3 separate regions of the Homo sapiens genome follow, and all the other regions are reported to be linked to region 1. The links are microRNA targets in miRTarBase. Many come from high-throughput screens and were not tested one by one. Region 1 holds a microRNA gene; each other region holds the end of a gene's coding sequence.
What was found. The annotated mature microRNA hsa-miR-6864-3p reads GUGAGACUUCUCUCCCUUCAG and lies in region 1 at 2,816-2,836, opposite strand. An mRNA with a match to its seed (bases 2 to 7 or 8) in the 3' UTR can be bound and repressed. Matches are read on the target gene's strand: a 7mer-m8 pairs with bases 2 to 8, a 7mer-A1 pairs with bases 2 to 7 and ends in A, and an 8mer does both.

Region 1 (4,086 bases):
ACAGGGCTCGTCCGTGGTCAAGGTCCGCAGGTTTGGGAGTTGGGGTCCTGCGTTCCGCCAGTATCATCCCAAGCTGCAACACGAGCAGCCCCGGGGAGGCTCCCACCGCCCTGCAGGGCCGCGCCCTACGCCGGCCGCCGAACTCCAGCCCACCCGCAGGGAAGCTACTCCGAGAACGCAGGCGGAGACAGTGGCCAATCGGACCCGGCGGGTATTCTCATCCCTCCAATCAACACTACGATCCGCCCGGGCAGCTCGGGAATTTAAGGCTACGGATGGGAAAAAGGTTGTCGGAGGGAGGCAGAAGGGACTGGGTTAAATTAAGCAGGAGGGGCAAGAACACACAGAGGACCCTGCAACCAATGGGAATTCGCAGGCTGGGGTGGTTTCGAAGGAAGGTCGAACAGGCCTGAGGAGGCAGAGCTTTAAGTTGAGATAGCCAATAGAGATGAAGGCACAGTAGATGGCGTGTCCTAAATCCAATCGAAATAGAGCTAGAGGTGAGCGGGGCAGGAATGCGGCAGGTTGGAGGCACCCTACCAATCAGACCAGGTCAGCAGCGGACAGGCGGGACGGCCGGCTAATGGGAAACAAGGACTGCGGAAGGCCAGGGTCGGGAGAAGAGGCAGGAGGCTGGCGCTATCTTTCAGGTAGCCAATCACTGTCCGCTAAGAACAGCGGGCGTGTCAGCAGCCCTTTTAGGGACTCTGAGGGTCTCGGAAGGGGCCTGTGAGGGGTCTTTCAAGGTTGAGGAGGCGGCATCGTCCAAAGAGGGAGAAGTATGGTCCCGAGAACCGGGCGAAGGAAGGCGGTTGTGAATTTGGGATCCTCACCTCGGGCCTTGCGCCGAGTCTCCTGGTCACCGAGGCTGGGTGGCTTCTCCATGGAGCTCAGGATGGAGCCCAGTAGGTCCGCCATCTTGGGAGTGACTGAGAGGGGGCGGTGCGTCTTAAAGGGAAGGGCGGAATGCCTTTAAGGCCGGAAACACGTCGGAGGCGGAAAACCCTGGGCCCGCCTGGCCTGGGCGCAGATCCCAGGCCCGCGGTGCATGGCGGCCTCCAGCTGGCCTAGGCCCCGCCCCGCCCCCGCAGACAGAGGCCGGAGGCTGGCTGGTGCAGCGATGTTTAATGGCAATTCGTATAAACCAAGCCCATGCACAAGTAGAAAGTGCCCGTGGAGCCGGCAGGAGGCCCCCGCCGCGCTAGAGAACCACAAGCCCGGCCGTGCAGCCCTCCCCGCGGCGCCTTAAATAGATTCTTCACTATACTCTGTATGTTACAGTATGTACAAGACCCCTCCCCTCGGGGGACGGGGCGGACTCCGCAACGCGTTCCTATGTACACCACCTCCCCTTCGGCCCTGAGGTCAGTGGCCAGAGTCGGGTGATGGGGTAAGACAGGGCCAGAGAGGGAGGAAACAGACGCAAACATGCGGAGTCGGGTGGGGACACGGTCAGCCCTGAAACACGAGGGGCGTGCGCAGCGAAGGCAGTGGTGGGAACCGAGGCGGATACATTCAGAGACGCGTCGAACAAATAAATAAGGCAAGTCAGGAGGGGGCCGAGTCGGGTGCAGGCAGGAGGAGCTGGGGAGCAGGGGCAGGCAGGGCTCCGGAGGTCACAGCGGAAGATGCAGGTATGTGGGGCGCGGGTTTTCTGGAGCCAGGACCAAAAGAGACGGGGCACGACCAGGAGGGACGAGGAGAGGGGTGTGGGAGCAAGGCGTGGGGAGGAGGGAGGAGGCCTACAGAGGGCTCCAACAAAGGTGAACAGGAAAGCTGCCGACAGGGGCTCCCCCTGCCCCAGAAAGCCCTCTCCCTGTTAAGACTGCACGAGGCGCCCCCAGGGTGGTGAGAAAGGCGGTGGCCAGGTCATGTGGCCAGTCCCGGCTGGGGAAGCCCTTCCAGCTCCTGGTTCTGCTTCAGTTCCCTCATCCTGCAGAGAGAAAGATAGGAGTCAGAGGAGACTGGCGGATCACGACGGGTGGCAACGCAAAAGCCCAGGGGGAGAAGGGATGAGTACCTGTGTCGGCAGCGCCGCAGGAATCTCATGATCTTCCGGGCTGCCTGGTCCTGCTTCTTGGTGAGAAAGGAGCCTCTGGTGAAAGAAACAAAAGATGGACCTCACAGAAGGCATCGCATGCCTTCGGCCCCCCCAGGAACCCTAGGCAGGGAATGGCAGTGAGGCATGATGATCAAGAGGATGAGTAAGGGGGAATGGCGTGGATGCAGTGGGTGGGCACAGAGGGCTGGGGCTGGGCCCTACTTGTTGCGGGCAGGCAGGGTGGCCGAAGTCCGGTGGGGAGGGCCGGGCCTGCGGCGGTAGGAGCGGTAGTGCTGCTGGATGAGCACAGCCGCTCGGCGGCTCTGCTGAAATCGCTTCTGTTCATAGTAGCTTCGGAACTTGCTCTGGATCAGGATGGCCGCCTGGGTCATCTTCTTATAGAGTGCAAACTGCAGGGGTGGGGAGGAGGGACAGGGGCTGAAATAGAGGGACGGAGACCCAAAGCCCTGAGGCTCACCCAAGTTAGGCTGATGCAAGACTCTCTGTAACCCACACACTCAAGGAAAGACTGAATCATCACAGACCTCACACTCAGAGCTCATGCCTAATACCTTAAGTGCAATCCAGGTCAGCTTGTGGAGAGAGAAGGGGAGTTAGGGCTCTGGCAACATTCTGGAATGGTTAGGCGTGGGTGTGGGTTGGTGGGTTGCTGGTTACACTTTTGAGGGAGAAGGGTCTCACCTGCTTGTACTTCCGGTAACAGCGCTGGATTACAGCTGCTGCTACCTCCTGCTGCTCCTTCAGCCGCCGGCCCTGAAGGGAGAGAAGTCTCACCACCTCATGACCCACATAATGGCATATCTGACTTGTCCCTTCAACTTTCCTGGGGTTCCCCTGACCCTTTACCCCATCCAAGGCCTGTCTGCACGACTACTCATCCTCCAAAAGCCCTGGGAGCCCAGTCTCCCCTGACTGGAGATTGTGTAATTCATCCTGAGACCCCTGCCCCTGACCTTGTACTTTCGGAAGGCCGTCTGGATGACTCGGGCAGCCTCATACAGTTCCCGCTGCTCGTGATCTGATAGTGTCAGCAGGGCAAAATCACTTTCCATCTTGCCACTGGTGGATGCAGAGAGAAACTCTGCCCAGGAGGGTGCTGAAGGGACAGCCAGGCGACCTCGCTCAAAGGGCAGTTCGCTGTAGGCGGTAGGGAAAGAGGGTGTCATGAAGCATCTGAAGTCCCTCCTCTGCCACCTATGGATGGCTACGAAGGAAAACCACCAGCAACTGAGTCTGGAGAGTGACTTCAGAGTTCATCAGCCAGTTCAGTTCGCTTCTCCAAGGCCCTGGGGCCTCAGCCAGAATGGAGCTTTGGCTGTGGGAAAGCCAGCTTTCTCCCTTCCTCCCATCTTCCTTTGAAGAATCTGGAGGCTTTGTCCTGAGCTAGTCACCTGGGAGGGGTTGAGCTGGGGAAATGGTCCACATTCTCCAGGTAGCTGGCCAGCCAGGACATGGTCTCACTGAGCCCCACAGCCCCTGTCCGCTCCCGCATTGAGGCTCCAGCCTCGGGCAGCCCCACGAAGTCCTCTCGTTTAATCCGCTCCGGTGTGGCTTCGATGATCTGCTTGGCTAGTGAGATCATGTCCACCTGGAAGAAGGGAGAAGCTGAGTGAGTCCTTAGGGGCCCCAGCTGCCAGCTGTAACCTCAGTCCATTCCTATCTTGTTCCTTCTCTCCCTGCCAGGTGCTGCTAACCCTGTCTTTCTGGGCCACTGTTCCAGACTCATTCATTTATACTGATGGGGCTCCCACTTGGGGGTCCCTCTGTGCTGAGATGCTATGGAGAATATAGGATAAAAAGGAGATACTCCAAGTGGGGATTCAAAGCTGAACAAATGGAGGACTTGACACCCTTTCAGGCCAACCATCCACTGTCCTACCTGGGCCTGCCCCATGCCAGCTGACCAGCACATGCTCCCCATAGGCTTGGCTGTGCCCACCCCCAGCTCCCTTTCAACTCTCCAAGAACCATTCCAACACTTGCCAACTACTACCCGGATGAATGGCTCCAGTCTGGCCTTTGCT
Region 2 (4,086 bases), not on the chromosome of region 1:
CATAAGGAAGCTGAGGGCAGGGGCAGCGGTTCTTCCTTTGCACATCCTTGCTGGTAGCCCCATGGCCAGGTACCTGACATCAAGGTCACAGACAGATGGCACAGTAGTCATAGTCAGCACTGCCAGGCACACAACACTACTAAACATACAGCACTTTTACAATATTCACAGACACTTAAGACACAGACACAAGGTGGAGAAATGATAGATATTTTAATAATCAAATATTGGAAAGAATTTTTGGGGTGTGGGAGGAATTCTTGACACCACCATTTAGCCCTGTCTCCCTTGGATCTGCATCTGCATATGACACTCAGAATAACCAGTGAAAACAGAGCGTCTAGCATTAAGCAGGTTGCCAAAAGTTTGTGATTATTTCCCCCCTCTGCAACTTAATTGGTTTTTTGTGTTGGTGTTATGGGTAGAAAGCCTTGGGGGCTTTATGGTAAAATGTATTCCAATAGCTGAAAGTGGACTCTGTTGTGAGTATCCTAAAAAAGGGAAAGTGTCTGACAAAAGGATAAATTAGTCTAGAACTAACAAAGCAAGGTCAATGCAAAAGCCAGGGCATGTGTCTGTAGCTGAAAGAGGAGGAAAGAGCCAATGGTCCTGAGCTGATTACTGCCCAGTTCACTGCACTTGACTACACAAGCCTGGGAGCTGCAGGAGAGCCAGCTGCCTTTCTAATTAGGACACTTGGGACACAACAACTTTTTTGGTCATAAAAGTGGTTGTATAGATTTAATCTTTGAAACAGTCTTTAAAAACAAACAGAGATTTTGCATGGTCAGCTAGAAGCTGCTATTCTTCAAAAGTGAAGGGTGATCTATTGGGATCATCTCCAGGAAGTCCTCCTTATAAGCAGAGATGAGCCTGATCTCTAAACCCCTCAAGTTCTGAAGAAAAGTCCATTTCCTCACTATTTTGAGTTTTCATTAAAGTGATAGATAACACGGTGGTGGGGGATGGGAAAGTCCTCCCACTCTAAGGTTAAGATGGAGCCAAGACTGCAAGGAGATTTAAAAAATCTCCCTGAACTTAAAAAACAAACAAAAATCCTTGGCATTATGATGAGATAAAATTTAAATTGTCCACTACAGAACAGTAAACTGTTTTTTAGAGATTCTGGTCTTTTCCTCTTTTAATCTTCTTGGTTTAAAGTGTCTATGCATTTATATTTAGTGAAAATGAATGGGCACATTGGGATTAAAACTCCAGAGTCAGAATCTGGCCCAAGTAATATTGGCATTAATATCACTTAGCTATAACCAAATGAACTAAGTGCTCAGGAACAGCCAACTAAACACTTCTGTCAGTTGTCAATCTCTCAGTGATCCCAACAGAGCACAGTGTGAGGATGGTAGTACAGTCCTCTTCAAAGGGACAGGGAACAAACACGGTGTGGTTGTGATACCCATCAAATTATACCACTGAATTACAAAATGTTTTTAATGTCTCCCCTTATAATTATATTGTAATGTGTGTCATAATTGGTAACACATTTGAACTTGGTGTTTCTTTCATTAGTTAATATCTAGATCTATGCAAGTTGCTCTAATTAGATTGCTTTCTGAAAATAATAATAAGGCAGGTTTAGGACCAGGCAGAACGTGAGCATAACGATAGTGTCTTTCCTTACCATATTCGGTTTAATTTTAGGCATGATCTTACCTTCCTAAAGAGGGGCAATGAGCTCATCACTGAACTACAGCACATTTTTTAAACAGTTATTTGTCGCATTGCAAGCAATCTAGATGAGATTTCAGGAAAAGAATGAGCTACCCCACTCAAATGCATAACAAATATGCTTGACTGGCATTTGGAAAGAAGAAAGAAACTCTTATTAAAATTTAACATCAACTTGGCCAGACGTTGGGCTGAATTGGAAGAACAAAGTGCTGCTCAGTAAAAAGCCAGGGATGGGAATGATTTGATTTCTACTCATATGGCTGAAATAAAGAAAATGAGAATGGCCAGCTACTTCCTTCATCGCAGGTCTACATAATCTTGGATTCCAACTCTTGCCACTGCACAATGGCTTTTTCTTTTGAAATGCTTAATTTGTAGTTGTATAGATCTGACTTCAGTGGAAAGAGGGAATATCCAGTGCTACAATGTTCTCAAAGAGAGCAAATGGTTCTGGATTGGTGGTGGTGCACACAATGATACGGAAAACGATCGCACCTCAGCACTAGTCACCTGGGCACCTGGCCTGGCCAAGATCCTCCTCCACTTTAACCCAGCTGGAATGGGTAACATGGTTACCACACTTTAGGGTACACAGGATTCCATAACAACTTCTAAATATTCTTCTTCCTTTTCCTTTGTGTGTCCCAGGGTCTTAAGCTGATTCATTGCCTCTATATTCTGAGAGAACACCCAGCCTAGTGCATGGGTTGGGATTATGGGAGACACTAAATTTAGGCTGGAATGGCCTTACAGATGTGGCCACAGTGCTATTATTTGCCATAACAATGCCTACATCAAGAGACGCAATGCTATCCACAACATAGGCTTTCTTTGTGATCATGAAAGATGCACTGCCTTATATCCCACTCACCACAGAGGGACCATCTTGCTGTAGAATGACTGAATGGACTGGTGAGGACTGCATCAGAGGCATTTCTTTAAAAAAGGAATCACAAGGGAGTCCATCGTGATTTGCCTATTTTGTCATGAAGCATCAAAGTTACCCAGAACCTTAAACACATCAAGTACAAATGCAACATATACAAGCAAAGCGAATTCAATAGGATTCCTAGCAAATTATTAAACTCCACGGTGGTAGGGCAGGGAGTAGTTGCAGAGGGAAGGAGTGAGATGGTGATAGAGATGGAGATAGGGAGATAGATAGAAGATGAGATATGCAAACCAGTTTTTTACGTTTCCATTTTTCAGAGTCTGATCCCACCAGCAAAACAGGTCCTGCCCCAGTTGGCCAGAGGCCTCTGATTATGAGGACTATCTGAGCAGAGCTGCAGAAACTATAGCTCTAGTCCTCATAAAAATGAGAGGCAGTTTATTATTAAAATCCAAACATGAAAATACTTCAAACCATTTCGTTAGCAGCATAGTCCCAAATGCAACATTCCCTTTATCAATCAAGTCTAAACCATGTGGCTTCAATGCATCTGTCCTGCTAAATCTGCTAAAACTCTTAAAAGAGCAGTGCAAAAGAGAAAAGACATCTTTCCTTTTAAATGGCAGACAATCCTTATAAGACATTCTCTAGGGTTCTATTCTGAAGGCTATTCAATTTGATTTGGGGCACTTTTTAAACAGCCATTTGGCGCTTTCCGTTTGGAGTTCTTAGGCACAGTGTGACAGAGTCAGCTTGGTGAGCCCTTCCCCATGCATTCGGTACAGCAGCTGAAACTCAGCAGGCAGCTGGTGGGACTCCTGCCACTTGGTGGTAAATTTGGTTCCTTTTTTGTCATAGTAATGGTATGGAAGATCTTCCCTTGTGTTGGGGTCAAATCCAAACGGCCAAAATCCATACAAGTGGATCTCTTCACATATTGCTGATGCAAGGGTGTACATAAGAATACCTGTGCTCAGCCGTTTAGGTGACAAATGTTTGTTTTTCCAGTACCTGTGGAACAATAAGTACATTTGGATTCAGAGGTCAGCGTTGAAAGTTTCAATCAGCAAGGTCTATCTGACTGGGCTGGGTAGTGGATTTGTTACTGTAACTTAAATAGTGCTTGTTTTGAAATTATATTTTAGGCAACCAAAAACAACTTCTGGGCACAACTGGTTACATAATTTGTGAGATCCAGTAAGAAATAAAAATGTGGAGTCTTGGTTCAAAAAGTATTGAAAATTTCGAGTGCAAGAGCAAAGTATTAAACCAAGTGTTGGGCCCTTCTGAGCATGGGATTTCCTGGGATCACACTGTTTGCACACCTTTGAAGCTGGCCTTTGAAGCTGCCCCTGGGTTTTTCTAAAGAGTGGTGTGGCTCTGACCCAGCGGTGACACAACAGAAGGCCACCAAAAAGAATGACTGTGCTTTTCTTACATAAAGTGTTCTTGGATAGGGTGAAGGAGGTCATTTAATCTAAGGGAAACTCCTCCGTCTCTTCCTT
Region 3 (4,086 bases), not on the chromosome of region 1:
TTCTAGCTGCTCCCATGTTTCCTGCCCTGATTGTCAAGGTAGCTTCACTCCCAGTTTAAGTATCTCTTTTTTCAGTGAAATGTTCAGCCCTCACCTACCCAGTGTGCTCCTAGAACAACTTCTCCTAGGTCTTTCTTTTTTTTTCTTGAGACGGAGTCTTTAAAAGAGCAGATTGCAAGGCGTAAATTCCGGCCAGACACAGTGGTTCACACCTGTAATCCCAGCACTTTGGGAGGCCAAGGCAGGTGGATCACTTGAGGTTGGGAGTTTGAGACCAGCCTGGCTAACATGGCGAAACCCATCTCTACTAAAAATACAAAATTAGCCAGGTGTGGTGGCATGCACCTGTAATCGCAGCTACTCTGGAGGCTGAGGCAGGAGAATCACTTAGAACACAGGAGGCGGAGGTTGCAGTGAGCTGAGATCATGCCAGCCTGGGCTACAGAGCAAGAATGTGTTTCAAAAACAAACAACAAAAAACAAAGAGCAGTAAAGAGAGGCAGAATCTATTAATAATAGAGCAAACATGAAGGTAACAGTCCAGTGCCAAATGAAATCTTCTCAATTGGAGAGCCTCTGAAATCTAAGTGAAACAGTCTTTTTTGGGGGACAGATCAACAGTGATTGGATCTCTCTACTTACTAAACGTTTCTATTTTTTAGGTATCGAATGATAACAGAAGGCGGAGTCAGCATAAATCACCAACAAGTAACAAATCCTGAGAGTGTTTTAATTGTTGGACAACATATTCTCAAGAATGGACTTTCCTTACTTAAAATAGGAAAAAGAAATTTCTACATTATAAAATGGCTTCAGTTGTGATGAAAAGTCCTTCTGGTTGTCCAAATAAACTTACCCATCATTCATTCTCAAGACCTCTGAAGGGTTGGCTCCAGAACTTAGACCTTTGCTTATGCAAATCAGAAAAACAGAATGGACTAGGACTCAGTGTGAGTAACTTCATTATTTTTATGGGCCGGTTAATAAATATTTGTTTAATAATGGGATGTTTTATTTTCTGATGTACAAAGCTTGATTACCATAGAAAACCATGATTTTCAGGGTTAATCTCTTTTTAAAATTATACTTCAGAAGAGAAAGAAATGCTGCTTTCCTATCTTACCCTTCCTGCTCTCCTTTTTGTAGTGATGAGGAACAATGAAAAAGAGGTAGTGTAAGGAATTGTGAGGCTGGGCATGGTGGCTCACACCTGTAATCCCAGCACTTCGGGAGGCCAAGGTGGGCAAATCGCTTGAGGCCAGGAGTTTGAGACCAGCCTGGCCAACAGGGCGAAACCCCGTCTCTACTGAAAATATAAAAATTAGCCAGATGTGGTTGCAGGCACCTGTAACCCCAGCTACTCAAGAGGCTGAGCTGCGAGAATCACTTGAACCCAGGAGATGGAGGTTGCAGTGAGCTGAGATCACGCCACTGCACTCCAGCCTGGGAGACAGCATGAGTAGTGAGTGAAACTCTGTCTCAAAAAAAAAAAAAAAAAAAAGGAATTGTAGCTGCTTTTCTATCAGGTATGGAGCACCGATGTCACTAATGTTATATAGTTGTTTATAAAATCATCAGGGCCTCTAGTGTCCACATTAGAAATGGGAAAACTAGTATTAGAAACTTTGAATAGAAATTTGATTTTTTTGTAGTTCAGAGAGCAAATGTAGTTCTTAAAAAGGAGAAAAAGTTAGATGAGGCCATGGTTGCTTTGAGAAATTACAGTAAGTAGTTTCTTTACAAATAATAGTACAAAAATCAGTACGTGACTTTTCAGAAAGTTTCTAATTCAGTTTTCTGGTTCCTTGCCTGTGTTCCAGTATAATTCTGTTCACATTAAGCCTTGTTGTCAGTGGATTCCTAAGGTAGCAATGTTTTATAAATTTAGAAACTTAAATTGGTTTTAAGTTTCAGCTTTTCCCCCCAAGCAGATTGCAACTTGAGGTAAATTAAAAAGTTAACCCCCCAAAAATAAAGCCAATTATACCAAATATGCAATCATATGAGAATATCAAAAAGTATCCAGGTAAGGAAAGTTTTCAGGTCAAACTTAAAGGATTTGGAATCAAGACTGAGTTCAGCTCTTCAAACATGAGGCAAATTAATTCTCCAGAACTATTTCCATATCTGAAAAATCAAGGCAATGGCATCCCTGTTGCCTTGAGGATCAAGTGAATCACATACGAAATGATTAATCAGATTTCTTTTGAAAACCTTACAGGCAGCAGAGCATGGCTTTAGTGTTCAAATTCTAGCCATTTACTACCTGGATTACTTGGAGCAAGTCACTGTCTTCATACGCAAAAATGGAGATGTTATAATACCTTGGTGAACTGTCAGAATCTGGTAGGAAAAAAGTCGTAAAATTTTTCGTACTCTATACGGTTATGTTCCAAAGTAGATTAGGTATTAAAAAGCTCCTTTTGTCTCCCTTTCTCTGGGAGAAAAGTTAAGAATTCATTTTTTGACAAACTTTAGTGTCATTTCATACCAGCAATTTTATTTACACAATAAGAACATACAGGTATCGTCAGAGATCATCTCTACATTTCAGATCTTGACTCAGTTTAAGGGCCAACAAAGGAAGGCTTTTCTCTTTCCGTTGTTTCTTGCCTCTGTTTTTTGTTGTACAAAGTGTGTAGTACTAGCAAGTGCATTACCATAGCATGTCTTTAATTTTCAATTTGAAATCTGATGTGCTGGAGAAAAGTGCATCGTAAGTTTTTGTTTTTGTTTTTTTTCCCCTTACAAATTCAAAGGACTAGAATAATGATAGTCATCTGGAAAAAGTAAATCATGAATGGCTATAATTTTGAAACTGATGCTTAATGATGGCAGTGATTTTTAAGTGTGGTAACAAACGTTTTGGGAGCATGTATCCTCTGTCAAGATGGTACTAGTAACAGATTCAAAGTAGTACCATATCGTATCAGACTGATGTGGGGGTTTTTATGTTTGACATCAGTTGGTGAGCCTGTTGTTCCTTAGTAAATTGATGCCATAAGCTAAAGTTAACATATTCATATTTTCCCTGCCAATAGTCCTTCATAAATACCTGGTCATAAACTGAAAAAAAAGTAATATCTGCAATATAAATGTGTTGTCTATTAGAGACGGGGCTAGATGTCTTAAGGATTTCTAAGTACATCTTAAAATTTATAATATAGTCGTTCATACCAAGAATCATCTGGGGAATTTTAACAAAATATGTATATGTTCTAAACCTCATCACTACCCCATAAATGCAGCTTAGGTCTGTAAGTCTGAAGGAGTATGTGTATCTATCTGGGTGTTGTTTTATTTTTTTTTTTTGAGACGGAGTTTCGCTCTTGTTGCCAAGGCTGGAGTGCAATGGCACGATCTTAGCTCACCACAACCTCCACCTCCCAGGGTCAAGCAATTCTCCTGCCTCACCCTCCCGAGTAGCTGGGATTACAGGCATGCGCCACCACGCCCGGCCAATTTTGTATTTTTAGTAGAGACGGGGTTTCTCCATGTTGGTCAAGCTGGTCTCCAACTCCCAACCTCAGGTGATCCACCTGCCTCGGCCTCCCAAAGTGCTGGGATTACAGGCGTGTGCCACCACGCCCAGCCTTGGGTGTTTTTCTTTCAGCTCCTCCAGTACTTTCATACTATTCTAATAAATATATTTTGTTGGTATGAAGCTATGAAGCAAAAGTAGCTATTACCAATGCATACATACAGTACACTGGTTTTAAGTTCCACCTCAAAGTGAATCTTAGAGCCTGGTGTAAGTGCTCCACTTTAGAGATGTACCTTAATTACTACTGTATTTGCAAATTAAGGGAAATTTAGGTCATCATTTGATTTTCTGAAATCTAAAAGGAACTGACCATCATTACCAAGTCTTTCTAGATAATCAAGGGTAGATGGCTGTTTTTAATGTAGGAATTAATGTAGGCATTCCTGCTTTCAGGTTTAAGTATGAATCAAAGCATATTTTAATTTGCTAGTGCAAATGGACCCAGAATTGGAAGGGCTATGTAACTACACAGTATGCACACCACAGCCATGTCAGTGTCACAGATCCTCTTGTGCATTCAGCTTTCTTAAAAACACATCAAA

Region 2: miRTarBase lists ST8SIA3 as a target of hsa-miR-6864-3p. The part of its 3' UTR that is shown has no 7-base or 8-base seed match.
Region 3: the mRNA of YARS2 is a reported target of hsa-miR-6864-3p. The part of its 3' UTR that is shown has no 7-base or 8-base seed match.

Annotation. Positions count from the first base shown.
Region 1 is chr17:4,966,887-4,970,972 of GRCh38, forward strand. It overlaps MIR6864 (microRNA 6864), which reads right to left and starts at 2,885; the gene lies at 2,816-2,885. It overlaps SPAG7 (sperm associated antigen 7), which reads right to left and starts at 931. Exons shown (of 7, transcript NM_004890.3): 1 at 834-931. The coding sequence starts at 918. CAMTA2 (calmodulin binding transcription activator 2) reads right to left here. Exons shown (of 23, transcript NM_015099.4): 17 at 3,454-3,650; 18 at 3,016-3,199; 19 at 2,744-2,815; 20 at 2,614-2,634; 21 at 2,264-2,451; 22 at 2,021-2,095; 23 at 1,111-1,933. The coding sequence ends at 1,870. It overlaps MIR6865 (microRNA 6865), which reads right to left and starts at 3,264; the gene lies at 3,200-3,264. It also overlaps LOC124900387. RefSeq lists enhancers at 1-653, 567-1,066, 654-1,330, 1,331-2,008, 1,976-3,175 and 1 more and a silencer at 1,077-1,156.
Region 2 is chr18:57,359,501-57,363,586 of GRCh38, reverse strand. It overlaps ST8SIA3 (ST8 alpha-N-acetyl-neuraminide alpha-2,8-sialyltransferase 3), which reads right to left. Exons shown (of 4, transcript NM_015879.3): 4 at 1-3,592. The coding sequence ends at 3,310. Among named protein-coding and RNA genes, the nearest start is that of ST8SIA3, 9.0 kb to the right of the region's middle.
Region 3 is chr12:32,743,940-32,748,025 of GRCh38, reverse strand. YARS2 (tyrosyl-tRNA synthetase 2) reads left to right here. Exons shown (of 5, transcript NM_001040436.3): 5 at 663-1,482. The coding sequence ends at 822. DNM1L (dynamin 1 like) reads right to left here. Exons shown (of 20, transcript NM_012062.5): 20 at 2,376-4,086. Among named protein-coding and RNA genes, the nearest start is that of YARS2, 9.9 kb to the left of the region's middle.